Regions from separate parts of the Homo sapiens genome. Here all the other regions are linked to region 2. The links come from fine-mapping of genetic effects on gene expression. A gene starts in region 2. Each other region holds a variant in brackets. All regions are shown on one strand. Distances are between the middles of the regions. Region 1 has its middle 23 kb from the start of SCCPDH. Region 2 holds the start of LINC01341 (long intergenic non-protein coding RNA 1341). Region 3 overlaps SCCPDH (saccharopine dehydrogenase (putative)). Region 4 has its middle 11 kb from the start of LINC01341.

The links. PIP is the estimated chance that this variant, and not a neighbour inherited with it, causes the effect.
Region 1: its variant is fine-mapped to the expression of LINC01341 in esophagus muscle (GTEx, PIP 0.99).
Region 3: its variant is fine-mapped to the expression of LINC01341 in esophagus muscle (GTEx, PIP above 0.99). The same link has a PIP of 0.9 or more in fibroblasts, left ventricle, testis and tibial nerve.
Region 4: its variant is fine-mapped to the expression of LINC01341 in esophagus muscle (GTEx, PIP 0.91).

What each region holds. Positions count from the first base shown.
Region 1 is chr1:246,698,714-246,703,889 of GRCh38, forward strand. No RefSeq gene overlaps it. Among named protein-coding and RNA genes, the nearest start is that of SCCPDH, 23 kb to the right of the region's middle. RefSeq lists an enhancer at 338-767. The variant C/G (reference allele first, on the strand shown) is at 2,803.
Region 2 is chr1:246,786,900-246,792,075 of GRCh38, forward strand. LINC01341 (long intergenic non-protein coding RNA 1341) reads left to right here and starts at 2,718. Exons shown (of 2, transcript NR_015422.1): 1 at 2,718-2,799; 2 at 3,547-4,587. RefSeq lists a silencer at 1,959-2,038.
Region 3 is chr1:246,747,709-246,752,884 of GRCh38, forward strand. The region is part of intron 5 of SCCPDH (saccharopine dehydrogenase (putative)); the gene reads left to right. Among named protein-coding and RNA genes, the nearest start is that of SCCPDH, 26 kb to the left of the region's middle. The variant C/T (reference allele first, on the strand shown) is at 2,496.
Region 4 is chr1:246,797,693-246,802,868 of GRCh38, forward strand. No RefSeq gene overlaps it. Among named protein-coding and RNA genes, the nearest start is that of LINC01341, 11 kb to the left of the region's middle. The variant C/T (reference allele first, on the strand shown) is at 2,894.

The DNA.
Region 1 (5,176 bases), 88 kb before region 2:
CTCCCTCCCACGGGGTGCCTGTGAGCCTCCTGCTATAGGAGACAGAATTCTGTATGGCCCATCCAGGGAGGAGCAACCGAAGGAAAAACAGCAACTGTGGTTCTCTGTGCCTATATTGGATTATGTCCCATAGATGCCCCTTACATCTTCTAATGAGGGAGTGGCTAGTGGGGCTCCTATTTGCTAGATGTTTCTGCTGCTGGGCTAAAAACCGCTTAGGTGGCCGGGCGGGGTGGCTCACGCCTCTAATCCCTGCACTTTGGGAGCCGAAGTGGGAGGATTACTTGAGTTTAGGAGTTTGAGACCAGCCTGGGCAACATAGTGAGACCCCCATCTCTACAAAATGAATAAGTAGAGTTTAAATTAAAAAGAGAAAAAGAAACATGCTTAATCTACTTCTGAGAATGATCTCAGGAAGAGAGTGAAACAGATGGGCTCGGTCTCCTGAGGGAGACAAACAGGGCTTCAAGCAGGGCTTAGGCTGGGGACGCTGTGTGGAGCAGAGTCACTGGCTATTTATAGCCCAAACAGTAAGAAGAGTCGTTATGAAAATGCCCAGAGGTGCTTTGATCCGGGAAGTACACAAGCCAATCAAAATACGCCGCCTTCGGGCAAGAGGAGCCGGAGAGCGCCATCTAGTGACCCCACAAGTTCCCTTCCTGAAGGAAGTATTCAGTCCGGAGAAACCAAGACCCACCTCACAGCGAGGACCAGAGAGACACCTTGGTAAGAGGCCCTGGAAACGAAACACAAAGCGAGGAAGGACAGTGCACGGGCCTCAGACGCGAAAAACAGGGGTCGGAGTGCCCATCCTACAGGTTGTTTGATAATTAAATGAGATATTTCCTTTTTATATGAAATGTTTTATGTTCATAAAGATGACAACTAAATAATCTTCATTAACTTAGGAATCCAGCCCTTACTATGTGACACAGTGTGTGCCAATGTATTTATCATTTTGTTTTATGAGTTGTATCTTTTTTTTTTTTTTTTTTGAGACAGGGTCTCACTTTGTCACCGAGGCTGGAGTGCAGTGACACAATCTCGGCTCACTGCAACCTCTACTTCCCAGGCTCAAGTGATTCTCCTGCCTCAGCCTCCTGAGTAGCTGGGACTACAGGCGTGCGCCACCACGCCCAGTTGATTTTTTGTATTTGTTTTGTTTTGTTTTGTTTTGTTTTAGTAGATATGGGGTTTTGCCGTGTTGGCCAGGCTTGTCTCGAACTCCTGAGCTCAGGTGATCTGCCTGCCTCGGCCTCCAAAGTGCTGGGATTACAGGCGTGAACCACGGCGTCTGGCCAACTTGTATCATTTTTGTTATTATAGAATATTTATTTGAAATGTTCTAGTTTGCAGTAATTTGTGGGAGTTTTGTTCTTACTAGGACTTAGGAAAGATATTGCATAAACCACTGCTATTGGGTTCACAGAAAATATAGGAAAAAAAGAATAACAACTATTTTGGGGTTTTTTTGGTTGGGGGTGGTTTGAGACAGGGTCTTGTCGTCGCCCAGGCTGGGGTGCCGTGGCGCCATCACGGCACTCAAACTCCTGGGCTCACTGCAACCTCAAACTCCTGGGCTCAATCAATCTTCCCACCTTAGCCTCCTGAGTAGCTGGGACCGCAGGTGCCTGCCACCACGTCTGGCTAATTTATTTATTTTTGTAGAGATGGGGTTTCACCATGTTGCTCAGGCTGGTCTCAAACTCCTGGGCTCAAGTAATTCTCCCACCTTGGCCTCTCAAAGTGCTGGAATTACTGGCATAAGCCACTGCACCTGGCTCAATAAGAACTATTATGGAAATGACATTTACATTTGTATATGTGCCAGATGTATATGAAATAGAATGAAAAAAGGCCCAAACCCAGCATAACGCACCGTTTCCTGGAATATTAATACATGCCAGGCAGCCTAAAGGTATGTCTCGTGGCAAGCCTGGGTCTGGATGAAACAAAACCTGGATTCCTCACAGTTCTGCATAGATTCTTGGAAGGCAGAGATGAGAGTCACTATCAGGCAACCAAAATATAGTTTTCTCTTATGACTTCGAGTCACCTCACTTATGGAATTTGGAAACTTACATGTGCAGATGACAGTTGGCAACAGCAGAGTGTGTCTCACAGCTAGATGTGGGTGTGTAATTAGCTGGAGGCCATACATGATTAAATCAATATGTTTCATTAGATGTCACATGTTAATCCTCCTTACTCATTTTGAGAATATTTTAATTTTCATAATAAATTATTCTGATTATAGCCGGGTGCGGTGGCTCATGCCTGTAATCCCAGCACTTTGGGAGGCTGAGGCGGGTGGATCACGAGGTCAGGAGATCAAGACCATCCTGGCTAACATGGTGAAACCCCGTCTCTACTAAATGTACAAAAAATTAGCCGGGTGTGGTGGCCGGCGCCTGTAGTCCCAGCTACTTGGGAGGCTGAGGCAGGAGAATGGCGTGAACCCGGGAGACGGAGCTTGCAGTGAGCCGAGATTGCACCACTGCACTCCAGCCTGGGCAACAGAGCGAGATTCTGTCTCAAAAAAAAAAAAAAGAGGATATCCAAATGACCAAAAGACATAAGAAAATGTGATCTATATCATTAGTTACCAGGTAAACACACATTAAAAGTGCAATGAAATATCATTACATAACAACTCAAAAATTAAAAGGATGGGGAATACCAAGTGTTGATGATGTTAGGGAGCAACTGGAACTTTCTCTCATCAGTTACTAGTTGAAGTGTTAACCGAAGCAGCCACTTTTGAAAACTGCTTAGCAGGATCTACCAGAGCTAAACATACAC[C/G]TACCCTTTACTCTGGCAATTTCACTCCTAGGTATAAATCCAAGAGAAATGAGTACACTTGAGTAGTAAGCCTTGTGTATGAGAAAGTTCAGAGCAGCCTTATTCATAATAGTAAAGCTAGAAGTGTCCCAATTAGCTATCAGCAGCAGAATAAAAACTAAACTGCTCACACGTGTAATCCCAGCACTTTGGGAGGCCGAGGCGGGTGGATCACAAGGTCAGGAGATCAAGACCATCCTGGCCAACATAGTGAAACCCCATCTCTACTAAAGATACAAAAAAAAAATTAGTCGGGCGTGGTGGCGGGCGCCTGTAGTCCCAGCTACTTGGGAGGCTGAGGCAGGAGGATGGCGTGAACCCAGGAGGCGGAGCTTGCAGTGAGCCGAGATCGCACCACTGCACTCCAGCCTGGGCGACAGAGCAAGACTCTGTCTCAAAAAAAAAAACAAAAATCAAAAAACAAAAAGCAAACAAACAAAAAACTAAACTGGCCAGGCACAGTGGCTCATGCCTATACTCCGACCAATTTGGGAGGCCAAAGTGGGTGGATAACTTGAGGTCAGGAGTTTGAGACCAGCCTGGCCAACATGGTGAAACCCCATCTCTACCAAAAATACAAAAATAAGTTGAGTGTGGTGGTGCATACCTGTAGTCCCAGCTACTCGGGAGGCTGAGGCAGGAAAATCACTTGAACCCGGGAGGCGGAGATTGCAGTGAGCTAAGATTGCGCCATTGCACTCCAGCCGGGGAAACAGAGTGAGACTCCATCTCACAAAGAAAAAAAAAAAGGAAAAAAAGAATAAAAATTTAACTAAAAACTATATTCATATGGCATAGTGTTATACAGCAATAAAAATAAGGAATTACTGATATATGCAGCAATATGGATGAATCTTAGACATTATGCTGAATGAAAGAAACCAGATACAAAAAGAGTGCATACCAAATGATTCCTTTCTTTTCTTGAGACAGAGTCTCGCTCTGTTGCCCAGGCTGGAGTGCAGTGGCACGATCTTGGCTCACTGCGAGCTCCGCCTCCCAGGTTCAAGTGATTCTCCTGCCTCAGCCTCCCGAGTAGCTGGGATTACAGGGATGTGCCACCTCACCTGGCTAATTTTTGTATCTTTAGTAGAGATGGGGTTTCACCACGTTGGCCAGGCTGGTCTCAAACTCCCGACTTTAGGTGATCCACTCACCTCGGCCTCCCAAAGTGCTGGGATTACAGGTGTGAGCCACTGCACCTGGCTGAATGATTCCTTTTATATGAAGTTCAATAAATCAGAATAGTGGTTACCCCTGGAGAGGATGGTGCTGAATGAAAAGGAGTACAGGGAAATCCTCTGGTGCTGGGAACATCCTGTATCTTGATCTGAGTGGTGGTTGCAGGGTGCGTATATATATTAAAATTCAATGATTTCTACATTTCAGGGTAATGTATTTTAAAACTTTATTATATTTATTTTATACCTCAATAAAGAAGAAAAAAAGAATACAGATGCTAACTTGAAGGGAATACTAGTGGCCAAAGATGGGACAATTTGAATATCAAGAAAAATTTTGACTGTGATGTATTGAAACATATTAAACAAATAAAAACCCATTAGTTTATAATGATTCTAAAAATATTACTTGATCTGTTATCATCTTGAAAATTGGTAAAAAGAAAAAATCAGGTATTTTTTCCTGTTTTTCCTTAGCAGTAATATTTCAGAGTAAACAAATAGTTGATGAAGAAATTATTTTCCCAACTTCCAGCTGATAAATACAGAAGGAACAATAGAATTAGAAAACTGCTGGCTGGGTGCGGTGGCTCACACCTGTAATCCCAGCACTTTGGGAGGCTGAGGTGGGTGGATCACCTGAGGTCAGGTATTCGAGACCAGCCTGGCCAACATGGTGAAACCCCATCTCTACTGAAAATACAAAAATTAGCTGGGCATGGTGGCACGCGCCTGTAATCCCAGCTACTCAGGAGGCTGAGGCAGAAGAATCGTTTGAACCCGGGAGGCAGAGGTTGTAGCGTAGCAAGCCGAGATCACGCCACTGCACTCCAGCCTGGGCAACAGAGCGAGACTCCTTCTCTACATAAATAAATAAAAAAGCCTGGCACAGCATGTCTGGGCTGAAATCAAGTTGCGGACCAGGCTGAGTTCCCATCTGGAGGCTCCGGGCAAAATCTGCTTTAAAACTCATTCTTGTCGTTGGCAGAATTCAGTTCCTTGTGGTTGCAAGACCCAGGTTTCCTGGTTTCCTCGCTGGCTGTCAGCCAGGAGCTGCTTCAGCTCCGAGAGGCTCCCTGCACTCCCGGCCCTGGGGTTTCCTGTATCTTTAAGCCATCAAAGACACATTGAGCCCTTCTTGAAATTCACATTTC
Region 2 (5,176 bases):
AACGCACCCCTGCCCCACAAGGCCTTGAGGTCCTTTCTGCACCTGGCACACCAGCTCCTGGCTCCAGCTAACTTACCTTCTTTGGCTCTTCACTCATTTGATTTGCTTCTGAACCAGCGGCATCAGTTTGATGTAGTCCTGGAACGCAGCCAGGACACTGGGGCCCGCCTTGCCGTCTCCACCGTCCGCAGCACCTGGCAACAATCACAGTGGAGGCGAAAGTCAGTCACTTGTTCCGCCATGAAGAATTTTTTTTTTTTTTTTTTTTTGAAATAGAGTTTCACTCTCGTTGCCCAGGCTGGAGTGCAGTGGCGCCATCTCGGCTCGCTGCAACCTCTGCCTCCCAAGTTGAAGCAATTCTCCTGCCTCAGCCTCCTGAGTAGCTGGGATTACAGGTGCGCACTACCACACCCGGCTAATTTTTGTATTTTTAGTAGAGATGGGGTTTCACTATGTTGGCCAGGCTGGTCTCGAACTCCTGACCTCAGGTGATCTGCCCACCTCGGCCTCCAAAAGTGCTGGAATTACAGGCGTACAGGCATGAGCCACCATGCCAAGCCCTTTTTCTTTTTTTTTTAGACAGCTGTCTTGCTCTGTCGTCCAGGCTAGCGTTCAGTGGCATGATCTCTGCTCATTGCAGCCTCCACCTCCCAGACTCAAGCAATCCTCCCATCTCAGCCTGCTGAGTACCTGGGACTACGGGTGCAAGCCACCATGCCTGGCTAATTTTTAAAATATTTTGTAGAGATGAGGTCTCACTTTGTTTCCCAGGCTGGTCTTGAACTCCCAGGTTCAAGCGATCCTCCTGCCTTGGCCTCTCAAAGTGCTAGGATTACAGGCATGAGACACCACGCCCAGCCGCCATGAATAAATGTGTATGCTTATTTGTTCATTCATTTGTTCAGCTGTTCATCAAATATCTACATTTTAAAATTACAAGCATGTAATTTAAAAACAAACAAGGGAAAATGACACTGCCTGGCTTCTCCTTACGTGGTTGCTTATCTCGACCCATGAATCCTGGCCGCAGGCAGGAGGTCCTCTGCCCCCAGTTCCCATTCTTGGTCTCAGGGTCCTTGACCCAAGGTGGCTCCAGACTGGAGGAGGGTGGGGCGAGGTGAAACATGGCTGGCTAGACGGAAGGCCTGGAGGTATCCTCAAGCTGCTGCTGGCACAGCAAGTGACCTGTGCTTCTCTTATACTTGGGGTGGCTTGAAGGAGGGGCTCGTGGAGATTATGGGAGGATCAATCTCCCTCCCAAACCCAGGCTGGTACTGCCTCTAATCAGGAAATCTCAACTCTTAGAGACCCCTGGCCTGTGGGTGCACACAGTGCCCTTGGCCCTGAGGTCTGACCCCAAACTGCTCACACAGCTGCTGCCTTGTTGGGGACCCAAGTCTTCCCTAGGGTCCGAGCCAGGGTCTGGGGCTGGTTCAGCTTCATGGCGCCACCAGGGCCACAGGGGCAGTGGCACGGTCAACCTCTGAGGACAGGTCAATGAACAGATGGCTTTTCCGGGCCTGGTATGACAGAGTCTTACTGGTTCGTTGTTTTGTTTTGTTTTGTTTTGTTTTGAAATGGAGTCTCGCTCTGTCACCCAGGCTGGAGTGCTGTGGCACGATCTCAGCTCACTGCAACCTCCTCCTCCCAGGTTCAGGCAATTCTCCTGCCTCAGCCTCCTGAGTAGCTGGGACTACAGGTGTGTGCCATCACATCCGGCTACTTTTTTGTATTTTTAGTAGAGACGGGGTTTCACTGTGTTAGCCAGGATGGTCTCGATCTCCTGACCTCGTGATCTGCCCGCCTCGGCCTCTCAAAGGGCTGGGATTACAGGCGTGAGCCACCGCGCCCGGCCTTGTTCATTTTTAAAAGTCGAAAACTTCAGCAGAAGAAGAGCAAGGAGGTGAATTTCTAATCGATTTATTTTGCTGAAATTCTGAGAGAAACACTGTGGTGTGGGGACAGGGAGGAGCTCTTGCACACACACAGGTGGATCTGCCCACTTTCCACCAGCGGTTTCATTACTGCGAGTTCAGGCAGAGTCCCGGTGCCGAGCAAAGCGTGGGGCCCCTCCGGGAAGCCCGCAGGTCACTCAGATCGCAGCGGGCTCCGGCCTGGCCAGGATTCTGGGGGAGCCGCCCGGAGCGCGGTGAATCGGGGCGGGGAGAGGGGCGGGGAAGGCGCGCGAAAGCCCCAGCAGAGACCGGCAGCGGCGGGCGGCCCGCGTGGGCTACTGCTGGGGGCTGCGTTCGGGCGAGGAGGGGAGATTCTGTCTCAGAGGCCTCGGGCTGCACGTTCTTCCGGGCCGCGCATTTGCAGCCCACAGCAGGCCCCAGCCGGCCCCTCTGGAGTTGGGCCACTGCTTCTGCAGGCCCAGCAGGCCCCTGGGGGCGGCCGGAGGCCACTAACTGGCTTCTCCAGCTCAGCATTCTTCTCTCATTTGCTGGGTACCCCACTCTCTTCTCTACCCCTTTGAACCATCTTTACCCTCATTCCTCAGGGAACGTTTAACGAGTTGAATGTTTACCATGTAGTCACTCTATATGGAAATCATAATTCAATTTTGTAAACATCAGACTTTGACAAAACAAATGATGATGTTCTTAAGGAAAGCAGAGAGACACAGTGTGAAATCGCTGCTCTCAGATCAGCACACGGGAGAGGCCAGCAGTCAGGAGGGGGCTCACCGAGTTTGTCTGCACTCGCTCCCTCCGCAGCCGCCCTCTCCAGCTGGAAGAAGTCGTAATCGAACCTGCTCAGGTCCTCACTGCCCCACTCCGAAGGAAACCCCACGTACAGGTAGGTGCTGTTGGATCCCAAAATCAGGCGGTCCTGGGGAGGAGACGGTGGGCTCAGGAGGGGTTCGAGGCCAAGGAGGGTGAGGTGAACCTCCCCAGTGAGAAGGATCTGAGGAATGTCCTCCCCTCAGGAATCCCCCAGACAGGGAGAGACGCAGACAGGAGGGAGGTGGCCTCTGGCTCCTGCGTTCACCTTCATTGCACACATTGAGGGCGTGACTCCCTTGGCCCTGGGGTTCTGTGGGGACCACCCAGAGCCAGGCCCTCCCTCCACGCTTTCCAGGCTGGTCTGGGTGAGTGCAGCAATGGCTGCAGGGGACACCAGGACCTAACTCAGACTACAGGCTACAGACGGCCTTTTCCGAGGCGTGATGCCCAAGCTAAGCCCTCCTGGGCGGTAAGTCTTGGTGAGGCAGAGACGGCTGCTGAACAACCAAAAGAAGGGCAGTGTGGCCAGGGACAGGAGGCCGAGGGAGGTCACTGAGGGGGCTTTCCAAATGGGGAGCGGCCAATCCCCATCTGCCTGTCCTGTCTGAAAGGCTGTGGCCACCAGGGAGGGGAGAGGGCTGCTGGGAAGCTGGCAGGGGCCCCAGGGTTGGCAGATTGGGGAGGAAGAGGCAGCGATGTTTGCAAGATGCTGTTCAACCCCTCTCAGTGACAGGCTCTTAGAAAAATCTAAAATGGCACAAAATGTTAGAGCTGGAAGGGACCTTGGAGAACACCTAGTTCAGCCCTCCTTGTTTTCCAGGTGAGGTCAGAGGAGTGAAGTGACTTGCCCAAGACCACACAGTGAGTCAGGAGCAGGCCTGTCCCTCCAGCAGTGGTGCCATGTTGTCCCCAAGCCATGGTGGCAGAGGAGCTGGTGTGAACGCCCCATCCTGCCACGTCTGTGATGTGGGCACCTCACATGACTGTCCCCTCCCAGCTCTTGGGGGGGACCTAGGACATTCTGTGAGCCTGCAGGAAAGTTTACCAAATGCTGCAGCTTTGTCCTGGTGGTGATGGGCACCCCGTTAACGGCAACCTTGCATTTGCTATGTGGAGTGACCGTCACTTTACCGTCGGCATTTGTGAAGGAAGCGTGTTTATCTGAAATTCTAAGAAGATGAGAGTCAAAGACACCCAGCAAACGGCGGTTTCCGTGAGCAGGTAGGCTGACCTTTCTCATGTGCACAGGAGGGAAGGTCTACAGCTGCGGAGGATGGCAGGTGGCATCTCGGGGCCTCCTGTGTGCTGTGGCCCATGATGCATGGGGACAGCAGCGGGCGCAGAAGGACCCTGCCCTTGGGGAGCACGGGGAGCTGGGAGACAGCAGGCAAGGGCTTCATTAACAGAACGAACACCAGCTGAGGGCCTAGCACTGCGGGGAGCCGGCCAAGGCCACACTGGAGTCCTCCCGCTCCCAGGCCAGCGGGATGGGGTGGTGGGAAGATGGCAGCAAGCAAGCTTCAGAAGAGACGCTCAGGAGGCGACTCTTAACGAGCCTCACCTACTCCGGGTACGTTTTGATCTGTTTCTGCGCCCTCGCCGTATAAATTCAGACCTTATAGGATTTGGGGCTGGACGTCGGGGTGTCAGGTTGGCATCCCCTCTCCCCGCCCTGCTCCCCTGCACCGATGTCATCTGTGTGTCCTGAATGACTGGCTCCCTGCCTTAGCATGTTCCATGTTCCTGCACTCCTTGGCCATCATGGAATGTTCTGGATGTGGAGACCCGTGTGCATCCAAACCCTTTTTTGCATGGGGCCCAGGGATCCTGTGGGAAAGGTTGCGGCCTCATCACTGGAGTTCAGACATTTACGCACCTGTGCGTTGGACTAAGGACGTGTTCTGGAAAGGGACTTGAGGGGGATCCCCAGGAAGATGTCCCAAGAAGGAGGCTGGCAGTGCAGGACGAGGCGGGGCCAGCCGGCCCCTGGGTCAGCACCCCTCCAGCCACGACGGCCCGTGGGCTTTCGTACGGGGGCAGGGGGTGATCTGTCTGAAGGATGTAGGTGATGGTGCTTCCCAGCTGGAGAGCTGGAAGCAGGAGGAGGACACTCCAGCAGCAGCCTCCCAGGCAGGGCAGCCACAGAGCTGGGGACAGCTCTTGACTGGGTGAGGCCCGGCATGGGGTTTCCCAGGGCTCCTGCGGGGCCTCCTGAGGGAGCCCTTGGGGTCACTCCACAGTCTGGGCTTTCTGTAGTCCGGTGGGTCAGGGCTCCAAGCACCAGGAGAGATCCAGGGATGCGCTTATGTTTGGGCCACCCCCGGTGGGCTTGTTCGTTCAGCCCCCTTCGTTTCCTGGCCTGCTCTACTTATATCTGTTTGTGAAGAATTATTACACAGAATCTAGAAACCAGCTTTCCCTTTTCTCCCAGGGTTGGAGCCCAGGAAGCA
Region 3 (5,176 bases), 39 kb before region 2:
GTCTAAGCTAATTCCGATTGGCTATTTTAAAGAGAGCAGGGGTACGAGGAAGGACAGTTACAGAACAAGTGGCTCAGGATGACTAAGAACAGAGCAGGTGACCAAGGGTGACTAAGATCAGAGCAGGTGATAGAGGCTAGGAGGGGGTTGTTTACTGAAACTAGGGTCAAGGAGACGTAAAGAACGAGGATGTTAAACTTTAAAGAACAAAGAACAGGGGAGCGGAACATAACTGACACATTGGTTCTTTGGAGAGGATCTCAGGACTCATTGTACGTAACAATTTACAGGCTGAAACCTTCGAAGAGGAATTTATTCTATCCTACAATTTCCCCCCTTTCAATTTTCTTGTTATTTCCTCTTCAAACTTTTTTTAACATGTCTTGGCTTTGCTGCTCGACTTTATCCTCTAAAAGAAAAAGCTGATCTGAATAGGGTGGAGGAGAGCTAAGGGAGGTTTTAGTTAGTGCTGCATCTGTAAGTCTTTGACTAGCCCACGGATGCACGGTATGACACAACACCCACCAAGAATGAGTACACCTGTTACAGCTGCAAGAGAAGTAAGAATTGAGGCTGAGTTCTTTCCATTTACCAAACCACCTTTCTAGCCACCCGGAGAAAGGGTTATCGGCTCCAGAATTTTAGCTAGTTCATGGGACAAAGCGGTAAGTCTTTGTAAGGCGCTCGTTGTGCTCCCAGTGGGGGTAGTGTTGTTTGGGATTAAGGTACAACACTGAGTTTCAATCATAACACAAACACCGCCTTTTTTGGCTAATATATCTAGGACCATTCTGTTTTCCCAAGCCATCTGGCTAGTGGGCCCCAATTGTTCTGCTATCCCTTTGACAGTATCCCTGGTGTAATTACTAAACCACTGCTGATTATAATAGATGTAATGTATCCAGTCTTTGTTTTTATTAATTGTCACCTGTAAAAATATTGACTTAAATCCTGCAGCTATTTGATCTCGAGATTTAAATTCATCTGGTTCTCCTCATGGAACTCCAGTAGCGTTTATATAAACATGGGGGTCAAAGGACCCATGTGGGGCACTTCTTTTATGATTTTCTTTTTTATCATGTTGACAGAATGCTAGGGTGGAAGGGATGGCCAACTGGACTAGAGCACAAGTGCTGCTCTAATTACTTGCAGAATACCCAGCAATAGTCCCCCGCAATACCACCACGCACCTGCTCGAGGATGAACAAGGGCAGACTGGTGGGTAAGCTCTGGAAAAGGCTTGGTTTCACTGCACCCTGTTAAGTCTCCAAGGAATGCTAACTTTTCCGTCTGCCGTGAAAGGCACGAGGTGAAGTTAATATCAGGCTGGAGGCCACATGGCCCTCGGGGGCTGACCCACAAGGCTCTTGACCTCAGGGAACAGCAGTGAAAGAGTCTTGCATGACTCATCGCCTCGGCTGTAGGGTTCTGGAAGAGAGCTACCACACAGCTCATGCCCAGTCATGAGAGAACCACCCAGGTGGAAAGGGGACAGTTTGGGTATCTGGCCTGCCTGTTGCACAAGCATAACCGTCGCTTTTGTTTAGCGTGCAAACAGAATATTTTATCCATTCCAGCCAAGCATTTGCATCCAGATACCCTGTTTCAATTGCTGTAGTTTGTTTTAAATCTTTAACCTCTACAGTAGCTACATAGGTTTTATCATTGGGTATATAATGAGAGAAAGTTTGGTTAGTGGAGAACTTAGACGAGGGAGAAGGGGGTGCAGGATGTGAGGAGGCAATGAAGTACATTTCAAAGGATCCTATGGGGTCCTTCCCTGAGACTTCTCCTACACCACAGAAATGGCCTAATGAAGGGGAAGAACTCTGGGGAGCAGCAGTCGTCATCTGTGCTGGATTACATTGGTTCAGCTGACCATGGGGAGGGGAAACTCCTTTAGTAAAATGAATGTATGGTTTTAAGAAGCTGCAAGTACTAGTTGGGGCCGTCCGTCCTTGCTCTTTGGTGTTTTATAGAGCATCGGACAAATTTCGGCAGAGAAGCTCTGCTCTAGGAGGACAAGATTCCCAGTTCATACTGGACTCTTTGTCAAAGTCCTCCCAAACTAACTTATCTCAGTTAACAGATTTCCAGTCTGAGGAGAGCTAGGAAGGATAAAGATACTTTTCTAAAGTGTAGATTTGCCTCTGGTTTGACAAATCTTCACAGGGCATCAGAAGGCAAGCGTCAAAAGTAATGGTTTGGGGTGAACTTGACCTAGTTACACTAGTAAAGAGAGGACTAGCAATAGAAGGGGAAAAGAAAGAGATGCAGTATAGGAGGTTCAAACCCATTTTCGCTTTAGCTTGGTTGGAGTTGGCCCTGGAATAGCTGTCCATGATTCTGGAGGGGGTGGTGCTCTTTGGACCCAGGTGTAATGAGTCCATCCTCTTTCTGCTGTTCGAACCGCGGTCTTGGTGCTTAGAAGCACTAGGTAGGGTCCTTCGAAAGCGGGTTCGAGTTTTCCTTCCCTTTAGCTTTTGACAAGGACA[C/T]GGTCCTCATGCTAATGTTGGTGTACTGGAAACTCTAGCGGGGGGGTACCTGTGCTGAAAGACCTATAGTTCTGAGGGACGAGAAAGTGGAAGATAAACCAAACATACAATTTCTGAGGAACTGATCTTTTGTTTTGACTGTGGGAATGTCAGCAGTGGAGTGCAAACAGGGCAACCTATACAACACTTCGTAAGGGGATAAGCGAACATCTTTCCGAGGGGCAGTTCAGATTCTAGGCAGGGCAATGGGATGGCAGCTAGTCCATGGCACCCGAGTCTCTAGACTAATTTGGTTAGGTGGCTTTTTTAGAGTTTGGTTCATTCTTTCCACTCTTCCTGATGAAGGTGGGTGCCAGGGAGTATGATATTCCCATGTTATATCCAGTACCTGGGCTAATTTCTTAATGACATGTACAGTGAAATGAGTCCTATTATCTGAGTCAATGCTTTCTATTAATCTAAACCTGGGTATAATATTTTCAACTAATGCCTTGACTACATTACTAGCAGTTGTACTTGAAAAGGGAATAGTTTGTACCCAACGAGTAAGGTGATCTATTATTACTAATAAATACTTTAGACGACCAATTGGAGGCATCTCTGTGTAATGAATCTGGATACTTTGGAATGGCCTTAAGCCTGGACTCCTTCCCCCAAGGGGTAATCTTTTTATAGTTTGTTTATTGGTTTTCTTACATACTGAGCAACTGTCTGTAACCCGTTTGGCCGGGGTATAAATTCCTGTGCACCCATAAACTCTGAGGACTGCGTCACACATGGCGTGGGGCCCCCAGTGGGTCCCTTGACGCAGCTGGAACAACATTTCGCTCATAAGGGGTTTGGATAACATTTCTCTCTGGTCTGGCAGTATCCATTTTCCTTCAGAATTCTCTTTAGCAACTGTTTTTATTAATTTTTTAGACCAAAGAAACCCAAATGCCATTTTATATTTGACAATTAGCAGATCAGCTAAATGTCACCTTTCTATTAGTGTGCTATTAATGTTAAACTCAATTTTAATAAAACCTTTTAGACATATTTATCCAATTTTAATGTCTGACCATAAGTTTTTTATAGACTCTTTTTAACCCTTTATAATTTTTGTTAAAGAACAGGTTAGTACTTTAAGAAAAACCTGTTGTGCTTTTATTTTAATGTCCAGTTTACAGAAACTTTAACCAATATGTTTACACACAGAATTTCCTTTACAATTAACTTTTCAAACCTTGCTTAAACCTTCAAAACAATTTTTAACCTTTTAATGTAGGTAAAAATCCACATTCTTATGCCTCCTTATAATCCTTTTACCAAAAGTATATTTTACTTTCCTTACACACCTTGCACATAAACTGTTTCTTCAATAGTTTTACATTCAGGAGGCCTAATTACTTTTCAATTATATGACATTTCTTGCATAAATTCCCTTTTATAACATTTTTCACGACTTTCACAGACGACCTTTGACATGCCTTAACTTTCTGACTTGTCGTAAATATCCCTTTCTTTAAACAACCAGTTAATTTACTTTAGGACAAGAATTTACCATATAAGATTCTTTTTACATAAATTCTCCTTTTTTTTTTTTTTTGAGATGGAGTCTCGCTCTGTCGCCCAGGCTGGAGTGCAGTGGCGCAGTCTCAGCTCACTGCAAGCTCGCCTCCCGGGTTCATGCCATTCTCCTGCCTCAGCCTCCTGAGTAGCTGGGGCTACAGGCTCCCGCCACCACGCCCGGCTAATTTTTTTTTTTTTGTATTTTTTTAGTAGAGACGGGCTTTCACCGTGTTAGCCAGGATGGTCTCATCTCCTGACCTCATGCTTCACCCGCCTCGGCCTCCCAAAGTGCTGGGATTACAGGCCTGAGCCACCGCGCCCGGCTAATTCTCCTTTTTTTTTAATGTCAAAGATGATAACCATTCTTTTCCAAAGCACACTGCCTTCATGTCTGTGGACTAGACTGCCTGAGGCCACAAGATTAGAAGTTAGGATCATACATGTTAGACTTAACTTTTAGCAAACTTTACTTTTGTTGAAAACCTTGTAAGTTTGGGATTTTAATTATGTGCTAGGTGTAGAGCCTAGGACCTAGACAGAAGTGCAGATGAGGTCTGGCTTCTCCTAGCATTTAACTCCATGTGTCCTAGGTTTTCCCTAGCTGCAAAGCAGGCCAGTTGTACAGCTAAGAAACGGTAGTCTGTTTGGCTATCTGATTAATAGCTCTAAGTTCTTGCACTAACCAGTATGACCCATCTGGCTTCTTTACAGGCAGAATTTGAGTGTTATAGGGAGACATACAGGGTTTAAGCAGCCCGTCACAGAGAAGACCTTCAATTATCAATTGTAGGTTTTAAATTTACCCTCACTTTTAAAGGAATAGGGTATTGCTTTCTCTTTTCTACTTCCCCAGGGGTTTTTAATTTTTTTAATTTAACACGAATCGGAGGAATCTGTAACTTTCCTCGATTCCTGTCTTTTGACCATACCTTGGGATGAATGTGTTCTTTGTCTGCGGTGGGGAGCAAGTTTAGGGAGGGGAGGAATTTTCCCTAATCAATATAGAGGCGTAAGCCAAATTTTAGTACTAAATCTCTCTCTGATAAGTTTGTTCCTGCCTCTGGAATTAACAGAAATTTAATATGAACTGATTTGCTTTTATATATGACTTTTGTTCTTTTTCCCATTTG
Region 4 (5,176 bases), 11 kb after region 2:
ATAAACACGTGCAGCTCAGCCAGCCCGGACCTCAGCCCCTGACGTGTCCTGGGACCTGAACACAGTCAGCCAATTGGGCTGACTTGGTTAACCTAAGAACCTGCCCAATCCCTGTGGCTGCTGAAATTAACTCCTGGCCTGGAGGCTGTCCGGAGGCTCAGCTCTGCGCCTGCGCCAGGCTGGGAGGAGCCTCAGAGGTGTTCTAGGTCACTCCTTCCGATGTCGTCAGAGAAAACAGATGCCCCCAAATAGTGCATGGGATATACAGTAAAACATGCCTTGTTCTCTGAAATTTCAATGTAACCAAGCACCTTGTATTTTTATTTGCTAAATCTGGTAACTGTACCCCTTTCGTTTTACACAGGGGAGATGGAATCAGAGTTTACAAGTCCCACGGGCCGCGGGCACCATTTTCTCTTTCCTCTGTATCACATGGTCTCTTGTGTAAAAACTGGGAGCAACAGATTTGCATCTGATAAGCAGGGAGAAAACAAACGTTCTGGATACTGCTTAAGGCAAAATTCGATCTAAAGCTCTGAGCTTGGGCTGGGCATGGTGGCTCACACCTGTAATCCTGGTACTTTGGGAGGCCGAGGAGGGAGGATCACTTGAGTCTGGGAGGTTGAGGATGCCATGAGCCATGATTGTGCCACTGTACCCCAAGCTGGGTGACAGGGTGACACCCTATCTCAGAAAATAAACATAAAACCTGAGCTTGTGTCAGATGCTGGAAGAAAATGCCTCATGGTGTGCCACAATACCGAGGCTGTGCAGTGAGGAATGAGAAGGAAGACATTTGTCACCAACATGCAAGTGTTGCTGTGCTGAGAAGAGGGCCAGAGAAAAGACCAGAACGGGAGGCAGCTCCTGGGTGGCACAGTCATAACCACAGTTCCCAAGCCTCACTCACACACCAGGCAGAACTCTGCTAGGCACAGTTCACACATGACCTCCTGTGGTCCTCTCCCCAGCGCTGTGAATGAGGAATGCTGGCTCAGTGTAACAGGTGATAGGGGAGAGGTTCTATTTCTTGCCCGTGGTCACAGCTGCTAGGGCCAGACTCTGTCTGACCTCTAAGCCCATAGACCTGGTGAATGACATATCAGGGCTGGCAAGTAAGTTTCACCTCACATGCCAACTCCAGCTGCCCAGAACCAGGCCTGACAGTCCCAGTCTCCTGCCCGGACTCGGTGGGGAGCTGGGCTGGTGGATTCCCAAGGCCGGCCTTCGCCTAAGGAGGGGTAGGCAGCATGTGGGGACGGTCCTACCATGGCCACAGACTCTCCTCTCCCCACACCTCCCTTTCTTAGAAGGTTCAGGAGAGCAGACTTGGTACGAGCTGCAGAGGCCGAGGAGCAGGAACTCGGCTTGGTGACAGCCTCCCGTAGTGCTGACCAAGTGGACCTGTCTCCCAGCCAGGTGGGTGGGAAGGAACCTGGCAGTGACAGCCCCTCCCTCCCTGGTGACTCCTGCGGCCATCAGGCCACCTCCACAGACTGCAGTGTGCAGAGTGGACCCTGGGAAGTGCGGTAACTGACAGTGTGGAGAGCTGGTCTGTGCAGGGGCTGCAGGGCTGCCCAGCGAGTGGCTCTGACCGAGGCGCTGTCGCTTACAGAGCTCATCTTCATTTGTCATTAGCACAAAAATCCCCTTGTCTGGCACCACGCCCTGTGTGACAAAAGGAGAAAGCTGTGAATAGCCGTGCTATTCGGCAGGAAAATACAGGGACAGATCAAACCAATCACATCAGGACCAGCATCCGTGCCGCCCCCATCCCTGAGCCCCCAGTTCTGCTCCCATCCAGGACCCAGTGACACAGCCCTGCCCTGAGGCTCCGGGTCTCCATTCTTTCCCTCGTGTTTTAGTTCCTTTCATTCCTCTCTCTCAGGTCGTTTTGTTTTCCTCCTGGACCCCCTTCCCAATGGCAACCCCTGCAGTCTAAGAGCACTGACAGACTTTGCTAGATTTAGAACGTAGAACCACCATGGATGATAAATATTCACAGACGTACCTTTCCGCATATCTCAATGTTGATAGAGTTTCCTCATAGCAGATGTCAGCTGGACTTACGGCTGCGATCTGTGAAAACAGCCCTTTCAGACTTTGTTACTTATAGAGGAGTTTATTGTTATTAAAGCAGCTCGTATTCACAGGGCAGTTTGGCATCTTGTAATTTATGATATTGTTCCAAATTTACAGTTTAGAAATGGTGGCTTAGAGGAATGCCTGAGGCCACTTGCTGAGCTGGGGCTCGAACCCACCCCTGCCTAACTCATACCTGTGCTGCCAGCTGTGAGACTGACCGCCCTTGGGACTGAGTCCTCCGTGGACTCCCTCAGGGGCCTGAGTGACGGTTGAATGTTAGTCTCACAGAGACCTTGCTCGTTTTGTGACAGCCACTTGTATGGTTTCAAGCCTGGCTGTTGACTTTATTTATACTTACATTTTTTTGAGACAGGGTCTCACTCTGTCACCCTGGCTGGAGTGTGGTGGAGCAATCATGGCTCGCAGCCTTGACTTCCTGGGCTCAGGTGGTCCTCCTGCCTCAGCCTCCAGAGTAGCTGGGACTACAGGCATGCACCACCACACTCGGCTAATTTTTGTGTTTTTTGTAGAGACAGGGTCTCTCTGTGTTGCCCAGGCTGGCGTTGAACTCCTGGGCTCAAGGGATATGCCCACCTCAGTCTCCCAAATTGCTGGGATTACAGGTATGAGCCATTGTGCCTGGCCTTGACTTTGGATTGATTGTTCCAGAATTCAGAAAAGTTTTCAACTCAGAAGCAAACTTAGTGATGATTGGGTGGGCAGGTCACTGAGGATGGCTGGGGAGGGTGGCTGAGGGTGGCTGTGGCAGCTGCCATGTGGCAGCACATCCTCTGTGGGCTGGGAGGCC[C/T]GGGACCCAGAGCTCTGGGAGCCCAGGAAGTAATTATTTACATTTGTCTAACTTCACAGCTTTTAAAGCTTGTTCGGTTACGCCATCTCATTTAATCATCATGGCAATATTTTCAGGTGGATTTTTATCACCACTAAAAATTAAGGCTGTAAGACATTTGTGTTAAAACTGGGATTGGCGCCATAGAGACTGGAGAGCTTGGCTGTCGGCCTTGCAGGTTCTCTGTTCTCTTTGCTTCTTGAGATAATGGATGCCACCCTCTGCCTCTCCCCAGCCTGCTCCTTTGTTAAAGCTTGCGGGTTCCTGAGATGATGGATGCCACCCTCGGCCACTCCTGAGCACACTCCTTTGTTAAAGCTTGTGGGTTCCTGAGATGATGGATACCCACCCTCGGCCTCTCCCAAGCACGCTCCTTTGTGAAAGCACTGCACTGCCCTCAGGCAGCCCCTGTCAAGTCTTGCAGGTCTGGGCGTCTCGGTGGCTTGGCACACATCTGCTGAGACCCGCTAGGTTGAATGTTGTAGGTTAACGTTCAAAGAGCATCTTACAGGCCTTCTTGTGTCCCAGGTTTTTGGGGAGATGTCCTGTTGAGGCCCACAGGTAACTGACAACCAGAAAAACTTTAAAATGAAGTATTGAAACTGGTCAGGATTGAGTGATAAAGAGTAAGGTTGTGTTTTACTGTGGATTTTGGAGAGAAATGCATGTAACTGGTCCCGACAGGGAGCATTTCTCTCCTAAGCAGGACAGCAGAGTGGAGGCCAGCGCCAGGCTGGGGGCAGAGTTCACCCCATTTTGTCCCTCCCTGCAGCTGAAGCAGAAGAGCAGAGTCCTGATTTTAACACATTCCACACTGTACCCACTTGGCAAACATTCAATAATGGGATTCCAGAGCCTTTGCTGAGATAACGCGGTGCAGCTGCTCTCCAGGGTGAACACACAGTCACACTGATTTCCAGCCTTGCCGGGGATGACTGCTAACTTAGAATAACATGACATTGCTAGTTGTTTTTTTTTTTTTAATGGTACTAGTTTTTTTCCTGATAATAAAAGTAACATATATTCCTTGTAGAGAACTTAAACTACAGAAAAGAATAAATTTAAAAATTAGTAATACAGAAACATTGTTTGAACATTGTACTAGAGTACCAGAAGTTACAAGATAATGGTAGGTCATCATTTGTTAGTCCTGAGGGGGAAACCAAACAAGACCAGGTGCAGTGGCTCATGCCTGTAATCCCAGAACTTTGAGAGGCCGAGGCAGGTGGATCATCTGAGATCAGGAGTTCAAGCCTGGCCAACACAGTGAAAACCCATCTCTACTAAAAAGAAAAAAAAATAGCCAGGTGCATGCGTCTGTAGCCCCAGCTACTCGGGAGGCTGTGGCAGGAAAATCGCTTGAACCTGGGAGGCGGAGCTTGCAGTGAGCCGAGACTGCGCCACTGCACTCCAGCCTGGGCGACACAGCGAGACTCCGTCTAAAAAAAAAAAAAAAAAAAAAAAATTGCTAGGCTAGGTCAATGCAAAGTCCTGTGTTATATGACAGGTGTATTGGGAATAATTTAATCACAACAGCAACAACAACTATAATAGCAGAATCCGTGTGAAATGTTGTAAGAAAAGCTATTTTACCAAAGCGGTTCTGCTGTTCCCACCCAGAGCTGACTGGAGCAGTTTGGTCAGAACAGAATCTCTGTATGGAATGTGCAAGACCTTCTTCCCCATAGCTGCGTCAGCCAGAACACTGAAAGAAAAAGAAGATTCAAGACAGAAAAAGAATGCCTCAAGAAGAAATCCACCTCCCGTGGGATGAGTTGGAAATGGCTCCCACATCCCCTCTTTGGCCCCATAAGCCTGACGATCATATCCAACAGTAGAGATGCCTTCTGTCATCGATGCTGGAGTAAGCTAGCTAACCACGGGCCTGACTCCTCCGAAATCAACCGTAGAGAAGCCATAACCTAGAGGAGGAAGCCCAGGTCTGAGGAACAAACACACCCACACCTGCGAGGAAAACTCGAAGAGCCTGCAGGCTACCATAGTTTGTGTGTAGAGAATGAGCTGCAATTCAAGGAAGGAGGTGCCAGGCCTGACAGTGTGCAGATAGGTTTGGGGGGTAGTTTTAGGGTCTTTTCTTGCCTCTCTCTCTCATGCTGCCTTAAGATCCCATAAAGTTAGGACCACAGCCTCAGGATAGGGGTGAGTGAGAAGCCCCTGCCCTGCTCCAGGGGCCACAAAGAAAGCAGTGTTGGCACTGAAGAGAGCGGGGAAGAGTGCAGGGAA